Homo sapiens: one gene and its partners. The protein of the gene in region 3 purifies or fractionates together with the protein of the main gene of each other region. This does not show direct contact. Each region holds a gene or a part of one and is shown on either strand. Other genes may lie near its edges.

Region 1 (3,500 bases), on a different chromosome or scaffold from region 3:
TTACTCAAAGGTCAACTGCTACATTTAGATCAGCCACAGTGCATCGCATCTCATTTTGTCATTACCTATAGATCAAGGCTAACATGAATCACAGCCAGTAGATGACAAATGGTCATATAAACTCTGACTTTCAAGTGTTGGTCACATACAAAATCAGGAAAGATCCGTTACATTATCATGACCCTTGCTTTTGACAGGCCTTAAAAACTTGGTTCTAAAAAAGAATTAAAAGTCGTTTTTTGGAACTCTTTCTCAGTATACTTTATATTTTATTAACAAGCTCACCTGTTAAGTTTTCCATGACATGTGTGTTTCCTAAAAGGTAACCGATATGTGTTTGTCATATATAATTATCTTTTAATTATTCATCATTTCTTTCTTATTTTAAAGGTGATGAATCCCCATAAACTCATAAAACAGAAACTAACATTAAAAAATGATTATAATGCCAGTGGTGCAAAGTCCTTTTTTAATAAAGCTGACATCCAAAAAATAAAGATTTAATTGTACATTCTGTGCTTTACAGTAAGAATAAGCACTTTTAAAAACACAAACAAAATTATATGTTCTCATGAACAGGTAATCTCAGATGTAGTAATACCCCTAAATTAAATTAATCCTGCCTTCCTAGGTATGCTCTATTTATCATCTATCTATATTAAAAATACTGTAATTACATACATATGTACATATAAGTAATTATATGTACTATATACATATTATATATTACATATATCACACATACGTAATTACACGTTACACATATGTAACGTAATACACTATAGTACATGTGACTACATACATGCAATTACATGTGGCTACATACATGTAATTACATAATTATCTTTTAATTATTCATCACTTATTTCTTATTTTAAAGGTGATGAATCCCCATAAACTCATAAAACAGAAACTAACATTGAAAAATGATTATAATGCCAGGGGTACAAAGTCCTTTTTTAATAAAGCTGACATCCAAATTACATATGTAATTACATAGTATGTATGTAATTACAGTATTTTTAGTTTAATTTCTTTTTCCAAATAATTTTAAACATATCTGCCTTAAATATATATTCATCAGCATTGCAATTCATACCAAAATTATATGCCCATTAAAAAAATTACTAAAAAAAATGTAACTCTTAGAAACCACACCAGACTCCCATCCACATAAGCACACACCACCATACACACAGATAAGCATGCTTTTATAGCCATAAGGCAAAATGCCATTTTAACTCTGCAAAATTAATCAAGAGGGACGTCAATCATCAGACCCTGATATCATATTTTCTTAACCAAGAACAATGTGGATAAATAATTATTTAGCATAATATAATTTAGCAATACTTTCATTTGGGGTCCTTTATAATATATTATATTCTAATATTGGATTTTAATATTCATAGGTAAACTTACAGAAGAAAATCAGTCTTTCTCCTGCATTAATATGCTCTACTTGCATATATATCAGCACTAAAGAAACGGATATATAACAAAAAGTTAGAGCGTCTTATGTCACTCGGGGGTTGAGATGGCAAAAGACATAAATCCACTGCAAGTTTTACTAGGGATAAAATGTGTGTGATTCCTTTCCTTTCTCTCTGTTTAACCATCTCTCTCTTCATATTTGAAAGAATAATGAAGTTAGGATGAATTTTACCATTCCATTATTTGACACAAACCTATTCCTCAGGCATTTACTTATGACTCAAAATCCAGAAAATAAATCACCAAATTATCTCTGGGAATATAAACAAATGTGGAAAGTTTTATAAGTGCTATTTGCAATCTAAATGTATAACTTAAAAGAAAATGTATACAAGGCCAATTGTGGTAATTATGAGAATCACCTCAAAACAGTATAAAAATATGGAGTATTATGATTTATTTTCCTTCCTTTCTCTCACATAAAAATAAAAAAAAACCTTATACTTGAATAGGAGGGAAATTCTAATAGCATTTATTGCATACTATGGAGAACAAAGTAGTACTGTTCTCTTTTGACCCTATTCAGTGATCATAGGAAAGGAGAGGTTTGAAAATGCTTTTCTAAACATCTAGGACAAGAAAAGGTAGAGCAAGGTATGTTTCTTTCATTTCCTTTCACTAAGACTGGACAGCTGCAATTGAAGAAATAGTTGCATGACAAAAATGAATAGAAGAAAACAATTAGACAAGACCTTTCTTGGTGACTATTGTTTAGGAATTCTGCACTTATTTAGCTTCCTTCATAGTGGGCCCTGTTCTGATTTATTTATAAGTGCGTTTATTTCTGACAGGATGTTTTAAAATGATGGTGCAATTTGGGTGAATTTTATCTACAGAGTTATGTTCCTTTATTTGGCATTTCTGTATTTTAGCAAATATTTATCACTTAAAATAAAATGGTTTTAATGTCAGCTATTTTATTTTGGTTTTAGACTGACCTTCGCGAGTCTACTTATTACGGCTCACTAGCGTGATTATGTGTGTGGATGTTGTGTTTGCCCCTACCATTTTCCATATGCTCTGCCTCACCAACACTGCCATCCGGCGTGGTCCTTTCATAGTTGTCCTCTGGGAGTGGAAGCGCACCCAGTCTTGGCCCTGATGAACTCTTACTGCTTGGTGTTTCTGACTCCTCCAGCCCGCTGTCATAGCAACTCTGCAGTGACCCCTGATGTGGGTCCTGAGGCTGACTCACAACAGAAAACGTCACTCTACGAAATGGCTGCAAAAGAAAAGATTCTGAATGTCACTACGATGTAAGATTGTAAATGATCTTATTTTAAAAAATACATAAATTACATACATTAAGGTCTACTGGCAACTAATTCAATACAAAATGAATAGATATGTTGAAACTGCATTAGTTAACTATGTATTATCTAAGGCAATGTCTAGAGCTTAGATTTTATTATGGAAAAACTGGAAATTCCCTTTCAGAAACAGAGATAAAAAAACAGTAATTTCACTAAAACATACATTTAAATCTGATATGTTAGTTCCACATATTCAACCTTTTTCTATTCTATAGTATTCACTTCAGATATGCTTTCCAGAAATGGCCTCTAAAAAAACAAGGTCAGTGATTTGTGAAGGCAGTAAATATTGAACTAATCCATTGTAAGAAGACTCAATTTTTAAATACTTTGTCCATATCATACAAAGCTATAAAATCAAATGGGTTGGCAGTTGACTTAAACTGTTCAAAGTACAGCTGACAAATAGGAATTTAGATGCAGTGCTAGGAAACACAAATATGTTTATTACATCATTCCTATAAAAATATTGCCTATGGACCTTGAAATTGTAAGAGTCATATTGCAATAATAGATAAAAGTATCCCTAAACAGTGAGTAGGAAATAAACTATAAAGTTTAATTGTATGTTCTTAATATTACTGTTTGTGATTCGTTCAATAAAGTAAAATCATGTACAGCCTTTAATTTGTTTTTAAAAAATTTTATGAAACTATCCAGTTGAACTCCACAATTTACTATGTTACTGACAAT
Region 2 (3,500 bases), on a different chromosome or scaffold from region 3:
GCTATATTAGACTTGAGGTTAATTGTACATTGGCTAAAGTCCTTCTGATGAGAATTATTTTGATCATAACCGATATAAAATATATATTGAAAACACTATGAGCATAAAATGAGTAGAATTAAATCAGTTTTCTATTTCATTCAATATCCACAATGGTCACTTTTGAAAGGATACCGATGATTAAATGTAAGACAATTTCATGAATAACAGACACTAAACAGCTTTTTTTTTCACATGAATTATATTTTAACAATTATTTTAAATAACATCTGGGTCAAAAGTTTAATTCAGCCTTACCAATAAGTGTAAAATACTTTTGTCATAGGTATACAAACTAAACTCTCCCAATCCCTGGCTTTGCATTGTAAACAGGTGAAATATCCATTCTTCTCTGTTAAAACCTGCTTAAAATTACTGTAACCTAGATTGGTGAGCAAGTGGCTATTACCAAAGTTTATTTATTTAGATTCTTATTTATTCAGCTGTGATACTTCTCACTAATGTCTAGCTTCCAAAAAGTAGTCAATATGGAAAGACATGAATTTGTTTTATATCCAAATCAGCTGCTAATATTAGTCACTTTTGTATATAATCATTTAAGCATCTTAAGAAATAAAGACTGTCATCATGAAAAATATTTATTAGAGTAAATAAGTAAAATTATTTATTAGAGTAATCTTATATTGAGTATTTTATTATGTTGAATATTCAGTCTTACACTGAGTATTCTGGTAAAGCAAAAATCAACAAGGAGTCTCTTTTTTTCCAACTTACGTATTTCTTCTGAAATCTTTCATTAATGTTGAATGTTCAGGCATCTTTTTTATATCTTCCCAATCTTTATCTGTGAAATACATTGATAAATTTTTATGTTGCCTAAGTTCCTATTCTTGAGAATTTTTAAAAAGGTTATTACCACGTTCATTACATTTCCTATCCGTTCAACCTCCACACAAAAAAGCTGTCTTCAAATAAATGTTCAGCAACAGTAAATATCTTGAAGTGTAAACATAATTCCTTATCCCTTATATAACTTTATATATCTGTTTATATTTTAAATTTTAAACTGCAAACTTTCTGTATGTTTTACTATAAGCTGCCTCAATTTCTGTCACTAGAGAAGAATAAGTTATACATATTTCTATTTATCTTATTAAATGTCCTCTTTCTATTAGTAAAACTGCTTATTTCCCCTTTTCTACCAAATTTCTTGGTTAAGTCAGCAATCAATTTCTTCAATGAGAAATCTAAGATCTTCCCCTCAGTGGCTTTAAACTATACTTCTTTTTATGATACAGCCCTCCTTTCACCTTGTTAAATATATTTCTTTACATAAGCAATCAATGGAAGAAGGGGTAATAACTATTTGCACAATAGGGTAGGATATAATTAGTATATTAATAAGTGGGCTGGTACCTTGGCTAGTCTGGTTAACATTACCCAAAACAACCCCAGCTCCTAAATACGTTAAGTACAAAACGTTTCAGCTACTTTTGCTGGCATCCAAGTTGCTCAAACAATACATGCTACATAATGTGTTCTCTCCAATATCTGCCAATGGGTTTTCCTGAGAGTCTACTAGGTGCAAAGGACTGTCACAGGCAGCTTAACAGCACCTTTAGCTCTTTTTTTTTTTTTTTTGAGACGGAGTTTCGCTCTTGTTAACAGCCCAGGCCGGAGTGCAATGGTGCGATCTCGGCTCACCCCAACCTCTGCCTCCCAGGTTCAAGTGATTCCCCTGCCTCAGCCTCCAGAGTAGCTGGGATTACAGGCATGTAATCCCATGCCTGTAATACATTACAGGCATGTAGCCACCATGCCCAGCTAATTTTGTATTTTTGGTAGAGACGGGGTTTCTCCATGTTGTTCAGGCTGGTCTCAAACTCCCAACCTCAGGTGATCCGCCCACCGCGGCCTCGCAAAACCTTTAGCTTTTAAATGGCCTTTAGAGGCTTGCTTTTCTTTGAACTTACTTGTAAAAATATTTGGTAACTATCCTCCAAAGACATCACATATTGTAAACTAAACATACACTACACTCCTAAATGGAATTTTCTCCTTAACTATTTTCCTTGCTCCAATTTCTGTGTTTTATCAATTTCTCATGCTAGAAATTTTAAGATAATCTTTAGTTTTCCCTTGCTTATACACTTCCTATAAAACATTTCCATCTGCCCTTTTTTCTCCATCCTTATCTTCACTCTACTTTCTGTCTGCAGCACTGCTACAGCTGGTTTCTGATTTCAGTTAGCTCTTTTTAACAGATTTTTACCTACCACCATCTTACTAAATCTTTCTAAAATGCAACATAAAGCATGTCTCTAGTACTCAAGAACTGATGGATTCTCATTCTTTAGCTATCAAATCTAACCTCTGCTGCCTGCTTTCCAAGCTTCCTTATAAACCACCCTAACCTCTGAACCACATATTAAGAGTCACTGATAGACATCTTCACCACATCTACTCCCTCACAGAAGCTATGCCTTTCCCGTGGGCTCAGAAATGGTGGACACATTCAGAAGCAGGAAGAAAACAGAATTCTTCTGTCTCTACTCAAAACCATACCTACTTTTTAAACATTCTACATATAGCAGTACAATGCAAACTCCAAGGGGGCAAAAATCATGTCTGTTACATCATCAATAACTTTTTACTTAAGACAGTGCCTGGCACATGGCAGGTACTCAATAAATATTTACTGAATAAATAAAATTCCCATCACAACAGAAGTCTTCTCCACACTGGTGACCAATTTTGGAGAAAGGCAGTATCTGTGTAGTTATTCTGCATTTACTGATAATTAACACCCTTACAAGGGAATGTAGAATTAAAAGTCCCAGGTATTATCTCTATTAGTCTTGAGTTTATAGTGACCTGAGAAATATTCCTAATAAGAAACACTTTCTACTAAGTACTTGACTAGCCAAAATTTAGGTGTTTTAAACAAATTCTCATTATTCTGGACCTCTGAGCAGTTTTTGGTGATTACCGTTCTGTAATATAACTAGGGATTGAGATACAGTTGGAGAGATCTAATACCAGGGATAGGATACATGTAAACCATCTCTCTGTTGCAAAACAGCAGGCTAACTCACCATAGGGTACTATGACTCTCACCCACATTGTGACTGTTCTAAGAGAAGACTTAAATGCTATTATTCAATATAATGTGATTCTGTATAGTGCCCTAAATAGAAATAAGGTTCAAAATTTATATTTGAATGCCAAATAGTGGCAGTATTATATGTGCTGCCAGAAAAAAATTCCTACTACTGAATTCATTTATAGTTTCTACTGGTAAGAGCTAAAGGTACCTTTTTAATACAGATATTGAACATATTTTATCATTTCAAATACCAAATAACAAAACAAAAAAGTAAAACAAGATGAAACAAAAATACAGTCCTGAAATTCAGGAAACCCATAAATATTTCCATGCCAATATGTAAACTCTACAAATTTTGCTGTTTCTACGGATCTTTGATAAATGCAAGTCAAAA
Region 3 (3,500 bases):
AGGCAGAGGTTGCAGTGAGCTGGTATCGCACCACTGCACTCCAGCCTGGGTGACAGAGCGAGATTCTGTCTCAAAAAAAAAAAGAAAATATTCAATTTTAAAAATTAGGCGAAGTTTCGATGCAAAAACATACAAGGTGGGAGATTCCTGGTGCCAACAATATGTGTGGGAAGGGAATAGTTACAGAGTAAACACTTCAAAACCATTTGCTAAATTGTAAATGCAAGTATTACCCATTTCTCTGTAGATTTTATTTCAAAATAAAAACGTTAATTTTTAAAAGAGGCAATGCCTCAGCTGGTATTAAAAAAAAAAATGACTTTTGTTTGGTTGGTTTAGGTTTGTTGTTTTGGTTTGGTTTTTGCATATGCACAAAATAAAAGAGGCTGCCAGTGACTTCCTCTGCAGAGGGAAAAGGATATTAGGAAGGTTAGTGAAAAACAAGGAATAAGACATTCAAGAATTCAGGGCCCAGAGAGCTGAAAATGTAAACTGTGAGCTTCACAAGCCAGCAAAGTGGCCTGTACGTGATGTATTGATCTCTGTGCCTCAGTACTTCTCTCTTGAAATCAAAGTACCTGTGGTCTGTCTTAGATAGGTTAGGATTAATGTCTAATCCACAGTAAATGCTTTAAAGGTCCTCAGTGAAAAGATGTTCTGAAATAGTAGTCTTATCCATCTCCTTTGTGAGTAAATCAGAATAAAATATGTTATCAGACTCCCATATCTGCTGATCCTCATTAAAGAAATATACAGAAGAAATATCCAAACTGTATCTAACCTTAGATACAAGTGCTTCTCACGCTTTGTAGTTCAATCAAAGGACTAACATCAGAGTGATGCTAAGCAGCCTGGTTTGCTGGGACACAGTTAGATAGTCTGCAAATCACTCATTTCTGTGTTCACAAGCATATTTCTCAACTCCACAAGGGTATTAGTTGCACAGAACAACATTTAACATCAAGCGAACTAGTCTATTATGCAGCTACTCATTTCAGTAGAATCAGCATCAATAAAAGATATCAAATGACAGCAATTGATACAGACTAAGAGAGAGACTAGAAAGGGGAGAGTCTACAGCAAGATAATAAAATGCACAAGACAGAAAATCTATATATGCATGGAAGGAACTAACGCTAAACAGACAGCAAGCCTAGGTGCAAAGGCCACTAATCTTAACAGTCTGTGAAATTTCTATGTTGTTATTCTGCCTTCACAATTAACTTGTTTACTAGCTTTCTTGAACGAGTTGGTTTTTTTTCTCTAGGAAGTCATTTTCTTACATTCTAGACCTTGGTCAATACTAGGAAATAGTGCTCGTCTCAGCAGCACATATACCAAAATTGGAATGATACAAAGAAAATGATCATGGTCCCTGTGCAAAGACAACAGGCACGTTCGCGAAGCATTCCATTAAAACACACACACACACACACAAACACACAGGGAAATAAAAAATTTTGTTTACATGCCAGTAAACATTGGCACAACATTTTTTTAAATCCATGGACTCAGATGAGCCATAGATCAGCTGAATAGCTATACAAAATTGACTGGTTATTATTATCCTGGATCAGTGATCACCATGAGTGGATTTTTCACTTATCAGGGTGATTTCTGACCTGCTTTTGGATAACATCCAATTAAGACAGATTGCCTTTTGAACCAGCAGAAGGTGTTGAATTGCATACTGTTTCCCATCTGGCTGGTGAAACTGTGGCCATGTGGGCATAGTGTAGGAAGCTTTCTGGATAGGTAGTCTATGGCCAGTTGAACCCACCCCAAAGACACCTTGCCCAGCTGGGAACCCAGAAACAATCAGCAGACAAATAGGTCCACACGAGGCTGACCCAACAAGCCCTCCCAGAGGCAATCAATTTGTCAAATGATCAATTCACCAAAAATGTGTTTCTATTAACTCTTTATAAAATTTACAGCAATTGAAGTGGCATAAGATAGTTTTAACGGCTTATGAGAATTTTTTTTAGCCATTCATTTTGACTGTGCCTTTGCTGTGGCTTCTTTTTCCCATAGGCATCCTAAATCCATGCTGCCATATATTTTGGTGCTAGAGGGAGAGCCATCCACACCCTGGGTCTCTTTGGGTAAAACCATTTAGCATGACAAAGATACATTTCCCTAAGATTCTCTGGAATCCTGGGATAACTCTTCAGGTTATCCCAGGATCCCAAAGGCCTGAATTACTGAATCCTCACTCCAAACCTTTTTTTTCAAACCAATACTACATGTCTAAATTTAAATCGCCAACATATTCATTGACCTGGGTGAGGTCTTAAAATATTTTTACCAATTAAACTAGCAGGAGGAACTTCTAGAAAACAAAAAGAAATAAATAAGTAGGTAGTAAAGTGACAGACTTAGTGTAGGGAAAAAATACCAGTTCAGTTGCATCACTCCTGGATGATAGAAATGTGGTGGATATATACACCATGGAATATTACTCAGCCCTAAAAAAGAGCAAAATAATATCTTTTGCAGCAACTTAGATGGACCTGGAGGCCATTGTTCTAAGTGAAGTAACTTAGGAATGGAAAACCAAATATTGTATGTTCTCCATTATAAATGGGAGCTAAGCTACGGATACACAAAAGCATACAGAGTGGTATAATATAATGGACTTTGGAGACTCAAAGTGGGAGGCTGGGACGGAGAGTGAAGGATAAAAAACTACATAATGGGTACAATGTATACTACTCAGGTGATGGGTGCGCTAAAATTTCAGACTTCACCACCATACAATTCATCCATGTGTCTAAAAACCACTTGTATTAGTCCATTTCACACTGCTGTAAAGAACTACCTGAGACTCAGTAATTTATGACGAAAAGAGGTTTAATTGACTCACAGTTCCTCAGGCTTAACAGAAAGCATGACTGGGAGGCCTCAGGAAACTTACAATCATGGCGGAAGGTGAAGGGGAAGAAAGGGCCTTCTTCTCATGGTGGCAGGAAAGAGAGAGAAGGTAGAACTGCCACATACTTTTAAACCATCAGATCTCATGAGAACTCACTATCATGAGAAAAGCAAGGGGGAAATCTGCCCCCATGATCCAATCACCTCCCATCAGGACCCTCATCCAATTCAACATGAGATTTGGGCAGGACACAAATCCAAACCATATCAACACTTGTACCCCAAAAGCTATTGAAAATTTTTTGAAGTTTTTAATTTAAAAAAATGTGGCACCCCTGAGGCTGTGGCTCGTTTGAGGAATTCTCCCAAAGGAAATTCCCAAGATATGATCCTGTGTGTGATGCTACAAAAGTACACCGTGATTTGTCCTGCCTTGTGGGTATAGGGACTAATAATGTTCCCAAACAATGCTTTTCCGTTCCAGAGGGATTATACTATTTAAACAAAAAGCAGAAACACAGGGTTGATGGTGTGAAGGAAAGGGAATTTATGAGATTTAACAATCTAGCCAGGTGCGATGGCTCATGCCTGCAATCCCAGCACTTTGGGAGGCCGAGGTCTTTTAT
Region 4 (3,324 bases), on a different chromosome or scaffold from region 3:
CTAATGCTTCTTTTTTTAATTTTTATTTATTTATTATTATTATTATTGAGACGGAGTCTTGCTCTTTCGCCCAGGCTGGAGTGCAGTGGCGCTATCTCAGCTCACCGCAAGCTCCGCCTCCCAGGTTCGCGCCATTCTCCTGCCTCAGCCTCCCAAGTAGCTGGGACTACAGGCGCCCACCACCGCGCCCGGCTTAATATTTGTACTTTTAGTAGAGACGGGGTTTCACCGTGTTAGCCAGGATGGTCTCGATCTCCTGACCTCGTGATCCACCCGCCTCGGCCTCCCAAAGTGCTGGGATTACAGGCGTAAGCCACCACGCCCGACCACAACTAATGCTTCTTGACCCTTGGCTAGTAAGTAGCAGGGTGGAGGCTGTAGGCAGCTCTAATAGTCCTAAAATATCAGGCAGGGCTTGGGTAGAATGAGTAGAGAAAGTGATAGATCCATTAACGCATGGAAGAGTATCTGATTCTGTTAAAATACCTTCTTCCAATCTGAACTTTACTTTAAATCCAAATGGATTTCCAATCCATTTGCTCTCATTATCATCAGTATACTCGAGCACTGGGATCAGAGAAAAGAGATCCCTGTTACAGCATAGGAAAGTTATTTATTTATTTATTTATTATTACTTTTTTTGAGATGGAGTTTCGCTCTTGTTGCCCAGGCTGGAGTGCAATGGCGAGATCTCGGCTCACTGCAACCTCCACCTCCCAGGTTCAAGCAATTTTCCTGCCTCAGCCTCCCAAATAACTGGGATTACAGGCATGCGCCACCTCGCCTGGCTAATTTTGTATTTTTAATAGAGACAGGATTTCACCATGTTGGTTGGGCTGGTCTTGAACTCCTCACCTCCTGATCTGCCTGCCTCGGCCTCCCAAAGTGCTGGGATTATAGGCGTAAGCCACTGCACCTGGCTAGGAAAGTTCTTTTAGCACCTAGGTTTTGTTCTGAAGGAGAGGTAGGCTAGAGAGAAATGGATTGTTAAGGCTTACCTGTGGGCTAATATAAGGGAATGGCAAGGTATTAATTAAATAGTGAGGGAAAGTTAATCAGCAGCCTTGAATGGCTTTGTGTACAAAGCCCACCACTTGTGTACAGAGAAAGTAGATTGGTCTTTACCCTTGGGGAAACTCCTAGGTATGGGGACAGATTCTGGAAAAGAATGATTATTTGCAATTCAGTGGAACTGGTGAGGGAATGCTAATAGGAAAATCCAAGCTCTGACTGAGGCACGCATGGTGAGATGCCAGAGAGCTTCTGCTCCCCTCTACCACCACCTTGTCCTCCCCCTTTCCCCATGGTGGCAGCATGACACAGCAAGGCCCTGTTGAGTAGGCCTTGGATGCCCACAAAGGGTCTGGACAAAGGATGTTTGGGCGTGTCTGTGTGGCTCCGAGAGAGTGTATCTTTCTAATCTACATATTTGCTAATCATGTATCTCTAAGAACAGAGTGATAATTAGATATTGCCTTTGCCTAAAATACCTGGATAATTTAAAATGAAGGATAATGGGAAGCATTTATTGAATATATATTGTGGTACAAGGCACTGTCAACCCTTTAAGTAAATGATACCGTTTAAGATAATGATAGATGTAAAGATAGATGAAGTAGGGGTGGAGAGCATTTGTGGAGGGGAAGGGGAAGCTAGCCAAAAAAGGGGTCTTTTGCAAAATTTGGAGTATTTGATAATTAAATCCATACTATATTAAATCAAAAATTTCATTACTATTTACATTAGTGAATAGCACTTTAACTTCAATTTTCTGTGTAGTCTTATTTTATGTTCTTGACTTGATTTTAATGCCACATATGCTTGCATGCATGTGTTTCTTGAATGTATTTGGTACCCTGTGTACATGTCTCTGGGTCAATGACATAGAGGTTTTAGGCCTTCTGAGTTAATATTTCATAACATTTGCTTTAGCTTTTTAAATTGCAAGATAGCTCTGCCAAACCCTCAGGGACTATTTGAGCAGTTTTTTATTCATACTCTGGTTTTAAGACAAGGGGTCAATTTGTCAAAGAGCTTTTTGTTTTTCTCAGATTCTAGCTTGCTCTCTACTGCCCTTTGCTTTTCCCCATTCAGAAGGCAATAAGGCCATCCCTATACATAAAATACATTAACAGTGATCTGTAATCCCAAACTGATGGAGTTAGGTAAAACTCTACAGGGTGTTGGGGGAGATGCTGGAGGAAATAGAGTAGATGAAGCTGAGTAAAAGTTTAAGGAAGTCATCTGCAAGAGGTGAGTTTATAGTAGGATTTAGAAGGCAAGAAGGAAAATAGAAAGCAGAAAAGTCACGGAAGGTCTTTTCACACATACCATGAGCTATTAAACCAAAGTCAGGAGGAAGTCAAGTATTTTTAAGTATAATAGGAGTTTGGGCTAGGGGAACGGGGGTTCCTCTATAGACTTGGAGTTTTTTGTTTGTTTTGTTTTGTCTTTTTGTTTTTTGAGACAGGGTCTCACTCTATTCCCCAGGCTGGAGTGCAGCGGCACAATCTCAGCCCACTGGAACCTCTGCTTCCTAGGCTCAAGTGATTCTCCCACTCAGCCTCCCAAGTAGCTGGGACTACAGGCGTGCACCACCAGGCCCAGCTAATTTTTTGTATTTTTTGTAGACGGAGTTTTGCCATGTTGCCCAGGCAGGTCTGGAACTCCTAGTCTCAAGTCATCCGCCTGCCTTAGCCTCCCAAAGTGCTGGGAATACAGGTGTGAGCCACTGAGCTCTTGAATGGAGTCCTGAAATGTGGAAAGTCTTTTTTTTAAGACAGAATCTTGCTCTGTTGCCCAGGTTGGAAGGCTCACTGCAACCTCACCCTGCTGGATTCCAGCAATTCTCGTGCCTCAGCCTCCCTAGTAGCTGGGACCACAGGCACAAACCACCATGCCTGGCTAACATTTTGTATTTTTAGTAGAGGCAGGGTTTCCCCATGTTGGACAGGCTGGTCTCAAACTCCTGGCCTCAAGTGATCCACCCACTCTGCCTCCCAAACTTCTGAGATCACAGGCATGAGCCACCACACCTGGCTGAAATGCGGAAAGTATTTTAAGGTGGAGAATGGAGAGAGTTAAGCAAGACAGGAATGAGCATAACTGTAACAGAGGATATACCACTGCTGGGAAGAATGGGCTAGATTTTGGAAGGCCTTGAAAATCAGACCCAAGATCAATTTGATGCAATAGATGGTAAATAAGTCATTCCAAGATGGGAAGTTTAGAAAATAGTAGAAATTCGGCCGGGCGCGGTGGCTCACACCTGTAATCCCAGCACTTTGGGAGGCCGAAGCAGGCAGATCACGAGGTCAGGAGATC
Region 5 (3,500 bases), on a different chromosome or scaffold from region 3:
AAATTGCATTAAATGCAGAAAATAATTTGGGTAGTAAATTTTGATCAGTAGTATGTAATTATCTTGAGCCCCATTTTTTTAAATACACTTTTTCCATCTCCTTTGGCAAGAGAACTTTGGTAAGCTGTTTACTGAATTTATTAAAATTCGTCCTTTCTAAAATATAGACCATCTATTCCTAGGCCCTTGGACTGGACAGTGCCAATGAGAAAGGCTTGTATAGGAGGGGTGAAGCCCAGCTGCTCATGAACGAGTTTGAGTCAGCCAAGGGTGACTTTGAGAAAGTGCTGGAAGTAAACCCCCAGAATAAGGCTGCAAGACTGCAGATCTCCATGTGCCAGAAAAAGGCCAAGGAGCACAACGAGCGGGACCGCAGGATATACGCCAACATGTTCAAGAAGTTTGCAGAGCAGGATGCCAAGGTGTGTGCAGAGCCTGATGACTGCAGGTGGATCAAGAGCCTGACCATGCCCCTTTGATTTTAGGGGACAGGAACAGCTAAACAACCCAAGAGGCTCAAGAGCAGGGAAAACGATTTCCAATCTAATCTGAGGCTGCTTTGGATCCAAAGGTCGAGTAGGGCAGTTCCAGTCACCAAAGGCACACGTCATGAGAGATGAGAAAACTAAATTCCCTTCAGATGTATTAGATTGGTTCAAAAGTAATTGTGGTTTTTACCATTACTTTCAATGGCAAAAACAGCAATTTTGCACCAACTCCCCCCGCCCGCCCCCCGGGCCCCTGCCCGAGTCAGAGTCTCACTCTGTCACCCAGACTGTAATGCAGTCGTGCTAACATGGCTCACTGCAGCCTTGACTTCTCTGGATCAAGTGATCCTCCCACCTCAGCCTCCTGAGTAGCTAGGACAAGCACACTACCACACTGGGCTAATTTTTTAAAATTTTTTGTAAAGATAGGGTTTCACTTTGTTGTCTAGGCTGGTCTCGAACCCCTGGCTTCAAGGGTTCCTCCTGCTTTGGTCTCCCAAAGTGCTGGGATTATAGACATGAGCCACCATGCCCAGCCCTTTTGTCATTTTTGAAAAATTGTAAACCCATCAGGATTTTTTTTTCAAGTAAGACTTACGATTTTCCCAGGAAATGGGATGTTATAGGAGCCCCATCATCACACCTGTTATCTTGAGGGTCGGCAGCCAGCCTGAAAAATGTGGCAGGAGAGGTCTGTCTGCAGAGAGGGCGGCCTCCCTACAGCATAGTTGGCATTCTGGTCCTGTCCCCAGTCTCCAGGAATGCCCAGACTTCATTATCCCACAGCTGTCCCATGTGTCAACCAAAGAAAGGTGAAGCTCCCACTCTAACTATTGGTAGCACAGCCCTGACCTACCCAGCTAGATATCCTAGAGAAAATCATTGCAATACCTCGTGTTTGGGACCTGATACACAGTCTGGAGGAGCCAGGAATTATTTCACTTCTTTATTCTCTAACCTTCTTGATTGCTTATTTCTTCCTTAGGAAGAGGCCAATAAAGCAATGGGCAAGAAGACTTCAGAAGGGGTCACTAATGAAAAAGGAACAGACAGTCAAGCAATGGAAGAAGAGAAACCTGAGGGCCACGTATGACGCCACGCCAAGGAGGGAAGAGTCCCAGTGAACTCGGCCCCTCCTCAATGGGCTTTCCCCCAACTCAGGACAGAACAGTGTTTAATGTAAAGTTTGTTATAGTCTATGTGATTCTGGAAGCAAATGGCAAAACCAGTAGCTTCCCAAAAACAGCCCCCCTGCTGCTGCCCGGAGGGTTCACTGAGGGGTGGCACGGGACCACTCCAGGTGGAACAAACAGAAATGACTGTGGTGTGGAGGGAGTGAGCCAGCAGCTTAAGTCCAGCTCATTTCAGTTTCTATCAACCTTCAAGTATCCAATTCAGGGTCCCTGGAGATCATCCTAACAATGTGGGGCTGTTAGGTTTTACCTTTGAACTTTCATAGCACTGCAGAAACCTTTAAAAAAAAAATGCTTCATGAATTTCTCCTTTCCTACAGTTGGGTAGGGTAGGGGAAGGAGGATAAGCTTTTGTTTTTTAAATGACTGAAGTGCTATAAATGTAGTCTGTTGCATTTTTAACCAACAGAACCCACAGTAGAGGGGTCTCATGTCTCCCCAGTTCCACAGCAGTGTCACAGACGTGAAAGCCAGAACCTCAGAGGCCACTTGCTTGCTGACTTAGCCTCCTCCCAAAGTCCCCCTCCTCAGCCAGCCTCCTTGTGAGAGTGGCTTTCTACCACACACAGCCTGTCCCTGGGGGAGTAATTCTGTCATTCCTAAAACACCCTTCAGCAATGATAATGAGCAGATGAGAGTTTCTGGATTAGCTTTTCCTATTTTCGATGAAGTTCTGAGATACTGAAATGTGAAAAGAGCAATCAGAATTGTGCTTTTTCTCCCCTCCTCTATTCCTTTTAGGGAATAATATTCAATACACAGTACTTCCTCCCAGCATTGCTACTGCTCAGCTTCTTCTTTCATTCTAATCCTTGCTATTAAGAATTTAAGACTTGTGCTTACAATATTTTTGACCTGGAGTGGATCTATTTACATAGTCATTTAGGATCCATGCAGCTTTTTTTGTCTTTTTAAGATTATTGGCTCATAAGCATATGTATACTGGTTTATGGAACTTTATTTACACTCCTCTATCATGCAAAAAAATTTTGACTTTTTAGTACTAAGCTTAATTTTTAAAAACAAAATCTGTAGGGTTGACAAATAAATAGTTGCTCTTCTACACTAGGGGTTTCACCTGCAGGTTTGACACGCAGTTGCTCGCTTTTCCTGCCCTGTCAAGCTTCTCTGTTCTGGCGTGAGTTGTGAAAGAGTTGAAGACAGCTTCCCATGCCGGTACACAGCCAGTAGCCTAAATCTCCAGTACTTGAGCTGACCATTGAACTAGGGCAAGTCTTAAATGTGTACATGTAGTTGAATTTCAGTCCTTACGGGTAAACAGATTGAGCATGGCTCTCTATTCCCTCAGCCTAAGAAACACTCATGGGAATGCATTTGGCAACCCAAGGAACCATTTGCTTAAACCTGGAACATCTCACCTTTTTAAATCCTAAAAAACACTGGCAGTTATATTTTAAATTAGTTTTTATTTTTATGATGGTTTTATCAAAAGACTTTTATTATTAGATTGGGACCCCCTTCAAACCTAAAAATCAAGTTATTTCCTTTTATAATACTTTTCTTCCCCATGGAACAAATGGGATCAATTTGTGAGTTTTTTCCTTTAATGATAACTAAAATCCCTCTAATTTCTCATTTATGCTTTTGTCTTTTTTATGAAATATTTCTTTTAAAAGCCCCAGTCTCACCTACGAAATATGAAGAGCAAAAGCTGATTTTGCTTACTTGCTAAACTGTTGGGAAAGCTCTGTAGAGCATGGTTCCAGTGAGGCCAAGATTGAAATTTGATACTAAAAAGGCCACCTAGCTTTTTGCAGATAACAAACAAGAAAGCTATTCCAAGACTCAGATGATGCCA
Region 6 (3,500 bases), on a different chromosome or scaffold from region 3:
ATTTGCTGAATTCCAACAGAAGACTTGGACACTGATGAAATTCTTATTTTCTTTCATAAGCTAAGAAAGAAACCAAGGAACCAATTAAAACAAAAGTGAAAAAATATTTTTTAATTATTTTTTTAAAATAGAGATGGTGTCTCGCTACACTGCCCAGACTGGTCTTGAACTCCTGACCTCAAGTGATCCTCCCATCTCAGCCTCCTAAAGTACTAGGATTATAGGTACGAGCCACCTAACCTGGCCCTGAAGAAAATAGTTTTATCACTCTTACCTGTGTCGCTTCTGGTTGTACAGGAACTTGATTAGGCTGAGCAAGTCTAGATTCAGAATGAACTGCAAAGGTGACCAAAACATTTTTGTCAAACAAAATTAAATTTTTAGAGAGACGCGTCTAAATACCTTTTATTTCGCTATTAAAGGCTTTTTTTTTTTTTTTTTTTTTTTGCGGGGGGGGGGGGGGGGGGAGTGTCTCACTCTGTCACCCAGGCTGGAGTACAGTGATGTGATCTTAGCTCACTGCAACCTCTGCCTCCCAGGCTCAAGTGATCCTCCCACCTCAGCCTCCCAAGTAGCTGTGACTACAGGTGTGTGCCACCACACTCGGATAATATTTGTATTTTTAGTAGAGACAGGGTTTCGCCATGTTGCCCAGGCTGGTCTCAAACTCCTAGGCTCAAGCAATCTGCCCACCTCAGCCTCCCAAAGTGCTGGGATTATAGGAATGAACCACCATGCCCAGCAATTAAAGGTAAATTTCTATAGCCAAACCATAAATAAACTTTTTAGCAATCATGAAAGTAAATTGGGAAATGCAGATAAAATTTTAGCTTTCAAGTGAGCATTTTGGTTTACCGGCAGTGGTTATTATTTAATAGTTTACTTTCACAATTGGTTTCATCTTGTTTTTTCCAAAAGTAAAGTAAAATGTTAATAGAATGCACTAACAAATAATCAGTGCCATGAAAAAAGACTTTTAAAGCTGTACAATAAAGTGGCATTATTCATACTCTAGACCTCAGACAGATAGTATTCCATTTTGACCTTTTGTTTCTTCTGAAACAGGGTCTCACTGTGTTGCCCAGGCTGGAGTGCAGTGGCGCCATCATAGCTAACTGTAGTCTCAAACTCTGGGCTCAAGAAATCCTCCCACCTTGGCTTCTTGAGTAGCTGGGACTATAGATGCATGCCACCCTGCCAAGCTAACTTTTTTATTTGACTAATTTTTAATTTTTTTGTAGAGGCGAGGTCTATGTTGCTCAGGCTGGTCTCAAACTCCTGGGCTCAAGTGATCCTCCCTCCTCAGCCTCCCAAAGCACTGAGATTACAGGCATGAGCTACCATACCCGGCTCAATATATGTTAACATAACCAACTTTCAATTTCAAGTGTTTCTAGAGAAAAAGAAAATTTAAAATATGTACTTTTCGGCCAGGCACAGTGGCTCATGCTTGTAATCCCAGCACTTTGGGAGGCCGAGGCGGGTGGATCACGAGGTCAAGAGATTGACACCATCCTGGCCAACATGGTGAAACCCCATCTCTACTTAAAATACAAAAATTAGCTGGGTGTAGTGTGGTGTGTGCCTGTACTTTCAGCTACTGGGGAGGCTGAGGCAGGAGAATCCCTTGAACCCGGGAGGCAGGGGTTGCAGCGTGCCGAGCCAAGAATGCGCCACTGCACTCCAGCCTGGCGATAGAGCGAGACTGCGTCTCTAAATAAACAAATAAATAATATATACTTTTTAACAGCCTATATTCAACTCAGCATGCATCTTCTTAACAATTCCCATCACTCTCTCACCTCCCTTCCCAACAATGATTAAACAGATAATCAAAACGACGATCTTTGGTTAGTCATTTAGAAAGTACCCATTTTCACTGGAGAGTCTAATGGACTCAGCATTATGTAAATAACTAAATAGCCTTACAGGTTTTATCAGTGCTATGTATACTGACTTTCACACAACTCCCCAGCTGAGAAAACGACTTACTCTCTTCCTTTGGTAGAGCTCAGAAAATGAACACTAAAAACCATGATTGCTCTCTTGTAGGTGTCACCTTTGATCTGTTTTCTAAAACTCTTGATAGAAATGTGAGAGCCGGGCGCGGTGGCTCACGCCTGTAATCCCAGCACTTTGGGAGGCCGAGGCGGGCGGATCACGAGGTCAGGAGATCGAGACCATCCCGGCTAAAACAGTGAAACCCCGTCTCTACTAAAAATACAAAAAATTAGCCGGGTGTAGTGGCGGGCGCCTGTAGTCCCAGCTACTTGGGAGGCTGAGGCAGGAGAATGGCGTGAACCCGGGAGGCGGAGCTTGCAGTGAGCCGAGATTGCGCCACTGCACTCCAGCCTGGGCGACAGAGCGAGACTCCGTCTCAAAAAAAAAAAAAAAAAAAAAATGTGAGAGATATGAGCTCCCTTTACTTCAGAAAAATCCTAACTACCTTACACCAAATTAACTGTCATTAAACATACTTTTACTCAGCAATTTATTTTATGATATTTAACATCATGCAACATTAAATAGGTTATTTTATTTAGTTCCACTTTTGTGCAACTAAAACTGATGTGTTCTGGGAAAAACCAAGATGACTCACAATCACTAATAGTCCTGGAGAGAAGGTCCACTTAACCCAATGGAAGGCACCAACTGTATTTAGTGCTACTACTTCAAATAATGGTGTAAGTCCAGAAAGAGTCTGAAACTGTCTTGTGGTTTCTCTCTTCCCTTTGCCTCTTACATATTCCCTTACCCACTTCATTGCTGTGTATTTTTTTAAGGTAATAAAATCCAGAAATTCTCCTAGAAAGCTAAAAGCATTCAAAAAAAGGCACCTCTATTATTTTTACTCCTAGATTAATTTTGAAATTTTAAAAGCCAAGCAAAATTTCACTTGTTAAAGTTACAAAAACAGACAAAACTGGTCTATTACAGTTACAAGTACGGAAGTGGTTGCTATCGCTAGGGGTGAGGGTAACTAGTGATTGAAAGGAAACAACGTAGGTTTCTGGGGTACTGGTAATGTTTCATTTCTTAATCTAGCTGCAGGTGTTTTCAGTTTATAAAAACTCATTAAACTTGCGTATATTTTTCTATATCTACATGCCAATGAAAAGTTTAAAAATAAACAGTTATAAACTACATTTTTAATTCAAATCATAGGAACAATAACATTCTTTCTATCAAATTAAAAGACCTAAGAGTCAAAATTAAACAGTCATTAAAATAAACAAAATTTATTTTCACAATCTTTTTAAAACCTGAAAGTACTGGCCTTATATTTCTCTCTCACATAAAAATGTACCACTACTAACCTGGAGGGCAAACCAGCTGGGGCATGTCCATGTTTTGTGTTGGATTCATAGGCTGTGCAGATACAATGGCAGGATCAAGTGTCTGATTTTCAAAATCCAGCATTGAATCCTACAGGTTAAGTTAGGATAGAATAAAGTCAAATAATATAAACACTTAAACTTTCTGTTACAGAGTCTGACTAA
Region 7 (3,500 bases), on a different chromosome or scaffold from region 3:
TGGCAAAACTACAACATAGGTATTGGGAGGAACAAGCTCGGGGCTGGTCCACACTCGGTGCTAGAACTGTCACATTTTACAAAGGAAAGACCCAGGGCAGCTGTCAAAATAGCCTGGGACCTATTTCATTAAAATAGCAGAAACCAACAACTGAAAATAGTAGGTGGCTTTTGGCAAACATAGAACCCCAATCAATCAGACCTGAGCTAGCTGTAAGTGGACGGAGATGCTGAACTTGACTCCCTCTGCAGCTCACACCATTTACCCAGCTTCCTCAATATTTATAGCATGAATAGCCATGAAGTTTTCTGTGCTCTTGATGAAAGGAGGAAGCTGGTGACTTCTGAAAAATATTTTGCCACTGTCTCATAGCAACAGATGTTCCAGTTAAATATTTGGGAGTTGTGAACTGAACATCTTCTGTACTGATACGGTGTGATGTTAGTCAGTGACTCCAGACAGTTAGCAGGAGGCTGCCAACTCTAAGCTTTTTGGCAGTGGGGCTGCAACAGGTCCCCAGGGTTTTCTCTGAGTCCCCCCTCTGGTTTCAAGCTCACAATGGGTGATGGAATAAGTGTCAAGGGTCTGTGCACTCCTGCCCCCTCTTCTAGCCCTGAATCTGGAAGAAAAAGTTAGAAATACAGAAAGAGGCTGGAAGAACGTTTACCTTTCTGGTGCTTCATTCTTTTCCCACAAAACTTTCCAACAATAGAGTAGGTATGACTGCTATGCAACCAGCAATTCATTACAGAAGTTTTTCTTTTCTTTTTTTTGAGACAGGGTCTTGCTCTGTCGCCCAGGCTGGAGTGCAGTGGCGCAAACACCGCTCACTGCAGCCTCAGCCTCAACCTCCCTAGCTCAAGTGATCCTCCCACCTCAGCCTCCTGAATAGCTGGGACCCCAGGTGCACACCACCACGCCTAGCTAATTTAAAAAAACTTTTTGTACAGAGGGTCTTACTATGTTGCCCAGGCTGACCTTCAACTCCTGGGCTCAAGTGATCTACTTGCCTCAGCCTCCCAAAGTGTTGGGATTACAGGCATTAGCCACTGCCCAACTGGGAAGTTTTCTTTTTTTTTTTTTTTTTGACAGGGTCTCACTCCATCACCCAGGCTGCAGTGCAATGGCTCAATCTCGGCTCACTGCAACCTCCGCCTCTCAGGTTCCAGTGATTCTCCTGCCTCAGCCTCCCGAGTAGCTGGGATTACAGGCACTCATCACGCCTGGCTAATTTTTGTATTTTCAGGAGAGACAGGGTTTCACCATGTTGGCCAGGCTGGTCTCGAACTCCTGACCTCAGATGATCTGCCTGTCTGCGCCTCCCAAAGTGCTGGAATTACAGGTAACTTTCACTTTTAAAAGTATACACTACTAATGTAAGTGAGTGTTTCCTAAATCATTTCAAACTCTATTTGGAAATGGAATGACACTGGTTTATTGTAATTTACCAACTCTAACTGGAACAATATGGTATAAAGCCAGTGAGGATGGATCATCTCCAGTTCACAGACAATTCTGCCTCTTTTACTGGAGAACGACTTAAAAACTATTTAGCTAAACAATATAGAATGTTTATACATTCTGGATACTTCTCCATTCTCCATAATATGTTATTTTAACAAATAAGCATATTCATTTAAACAAGTCACAATTCTTAACTCAAAATGGTGTCAACTTGCTAAAATTCCTATTAAAGACATATCATGTTAGTACAACCTGTTGAAAACTTAAAACATTCTGAATCAAAAATAGGGTTGCAAGTCAGATGAAGCAAAGATGCAAGAAGCAATTTCGGGGACAGTTTTTATGTGCCAAAGGTCATTTCTAACATTTTTGAAGGCTTACAGGGACAATTAGATAACTAAATGGGCACCATAGGTCTGTCTTAATTTGTCTTAATCTTCGTGATCCCATTTGTCAACAGCTAGAAAGACCTTACACTCTCCCAATGTTCAATTCAAATAAACCAAAGAAAACTCACAATTGCTAAAGTGGCAGCTGTGAGAAACTAGCTTCTCACCACTTCAATAGTTTGTGATGCACTCATGTCATAAAGATCAGTTCATGGCTTCGACTCTCTCTTGAGACCTGGCCAGGTCCTGGCTGCACTGCGTTGACTGCTGGTGGGTGAGGCCTCCTCGGGGCACCCATCCAGACTGGGTTGGGTCCCTCAGTTGCTGCCAGGCCTGGGGCAGACTGGGCCGGGGCCAGACAGCCATGACCTGCTGAAAACCTTCTCCATGAAAGCTGCCTTTTCCGTGACCACACCTTTGAGACAACTGATATCTTTTTTTTGACAGAGTTAAGGCATGCAAAAGCATATGAAAAATAATATGAATCTCTACACACCTACTACCCATTTAAGAAATAAAACCGGCCACTGGTACATGAAGCCCTGTGTAACAAGTGTGAGTGTGAACTTACTCAACTATGTAGAATTATATACTTTTTTCCTATTTTATCTCAAAAAGCAGTAATGGGTGTGGCATGAGTTTCGGCTAACCACCCTTCCCCTGGGAAACAGTGCAGCGTGCGCTGAGTTGCATTTTAATGTCCTGCCTTCCGGCTCCTCTATGCGTGAGTCCTGGCGTGATATGTGTGCAGGTTTCTCTGTTTTACGCTGACAATTTACGTCAGTGTAGAATAGAAGGGCCAAATTCAGAGCTGTTCTTACATTTCCTATAAAGTAGTTCTTAAAGCCCTGAGTCTCTCATAAAATAAGCATTCAGTTGCTACGTTTCTTTGAAAAGTTTAATTTCAGGCAAAAGTGCAGCAAAAACTACGCTCTCAGACACTGCTGGTGGCATTAATCCAATTGGAAGTGTGTAAAAAGGGCTTAAATCTCTTCACTCTTTGACCCAGTAATTTTGCTTTTTGAGAATCTATTCTGAAATCAAAGTGAGAAACAGACAAATTTAAGTGAATCAAGATGTTCAATATTCCTTTTAAGAGCAAAAAGCTGAAAAGAAACAGCTTCCTGATTATTGGCCATTATAAAGTTGCATAAAGAATTAATTACACATTATGGAGCTATTAAAAATTATGGATTTTAGAAACTAAATGTGAAATATGGTTTATAATATAATGTTCAATGGAAAAAGATATAAATGATACCATGATTACAATAATGAGAGTCAGCAAAAAGAAACAAAGGTGAAAAAAATACCTCAGTGCTGACAATAATTACACTAAGATGATGAACATACAGAATTTTTTTTTAACTCTAGTTTTAAACTTTTAAGAGTGTGGTTATATTAGTTTTTGCTAAAAAAAAAAAGCAAAGTTTAAAAAGCAAAGCAAAGTACAAATTAAAAATAAATACGAATCACTCAGGATGGTGGGGAGAGCTCCCTTTTAAATATATTAAAAGCATATATTCCCCTTTATGAGACAATGTCAGCTGTGTCACCTGCTGTGCTTCCTTTTTTGGATTTAGTTGCCAGAAACCCAGAGCTAAAATTAATTCTCAGCCACAGCTGAGCTCACAGTTGACTCTGTGT

The links.
Region 1: the proteins of DNAJC12 (region 3) and PCDH7 purify together in Homo sapiens (affinity purification with mass spectrometry, with the first as the bait; one large-scale study listed by BioGRID). This does not show direct contact.
Region 2: the proteins of DNAJC12 (region 3) and CDK8 purify together in Homo sapiens (affinity purification with mass spectrometry; one large-scale study listed by BioGRID and IntAct). This does not show direct contact.
Region 4: the proteins of DNAJC12 (region 3) and MLLT11 purify together in Homo sapiens (affinity purification with mass spectrometry, with the first as the bait; one large-scale study listed by BioGRID). This does not show direct contact.
Region 5: the proteins of DNAJC12 (region 3) and FKBP5 purify together in Homo sapiens (affinity purification with mass spectrometry, with the first as the bait; one large-scale study listed by BioGRID). This does not show direct contact.
Region 6: the proteins of DNAJC12 (region 3) and CAPRIN1 purify together in Homo sapiens (affinity purification with mass spectrometry, with the first as the bait; one large-scale study listed by BioGRID). This does not show direct contact.
Region 7: the proteins of DNAJC12 (region 3) and TUBB6 purify together in Homo sapiens (affinity purification with mass spectrometry, with the first as the bait; one large-scale study listed by BioGRID). This does not show direct contact.

What each region holds. Positions count from the first base shown.
Region 1 is NC_000004.12:30,919,369-30,922,868, reverse strand, and holds part of PCDH7 (protocadherin-7 isoform d precursor), read right to left. Parts: intron 2,717-3,500; coding exon 2,500-2,716; intron 1-2,499.
Region 2 is NC_000013.11:26,393,629-26,397,128, reverse strand, and holds part of CDK8 (cyclin-dependent kinase 8), read right to left. Parts: intron 845-3,500; coding exon 775-844; intron 1-774.
Region 3 is NC_000010.11:67,807,189-67,810,688, forward strand, and holds part of DNAJC12 (dnaJ homolog subfamily C member 12), read right to left. Parts: intron 1-3,500. UniProt on the Homo sapiens protein: Probable co-chaperone that participates in the proper folding of biopterin-dependent aromatic amino acid hydroxylases, which include phenylalanine-4-hydroxylase (PAH), tyrosine 3-monooxygenase (TH) and peripheral and neuronal tryptophan hydroxylases (TPH1 and TPH2).
Region 4 is NC_000001.11:151,063,397-151,066,720, forward strand, and holds part of MLLT11 (protein AF1q), read left to right. Parts: intron 1-3,324. UniProt on the Homo sapiens protein: Cofactor for the transcription factor TCF7. Involved in regulation of lymphoid development by driving multipotent hematopoietic progenitor cells towards a T cell fate.
Region 5 is NC_000006.12:35,573,916-35,577,415, reverse strand, and holds part of FKBP5 (peptidyl-prolyl cis-trans isomerase FKBP5), read left to right. Parts: intron 1-182; coding exon 183-422; intron 423-1,473; coding exon 1,474-1,581; 3' UTR 1,582-3,500. UniProt on the Homo sapiens protein: Immunophilin protein with PPIase and co-chaperone activities. Component of unligated steroid receptors heterocomplexes through interaction with heat-shock protein 90 (HSP90).
Region 6 is NC_000011.10:34,086,231-34,089,730, reverse strand, and holds part of CAPRIN1 (caprin-1), read right to left. Parts: intron 3,427-3,500; coding exon 3,318-3,426; intron 337-3,317; coding exon 275-336; intron 1-274. UniProt on the Homo sapiens protein: mRNA-binding protein that acts as a regulator of mRNAs transport, translation and/or stability, and which is involved in neurogenesis, synaptic plasticity in neurons and cell proliferation and migration in multiple cell types.
Region 7 is NC_000018.10:12,314,741-12,318,240, reverse strand, and holds part of TUBB6 (tubulin beta-6 chain), read right to left. Parts: intron 1-3,500. UniProt on the Homo sapiens protein: Tubulin is the major constituent of microtubules, a cylinder consisting of laterally associated linear protofilaments composed of alpha- and beta-tubulin heterodimers.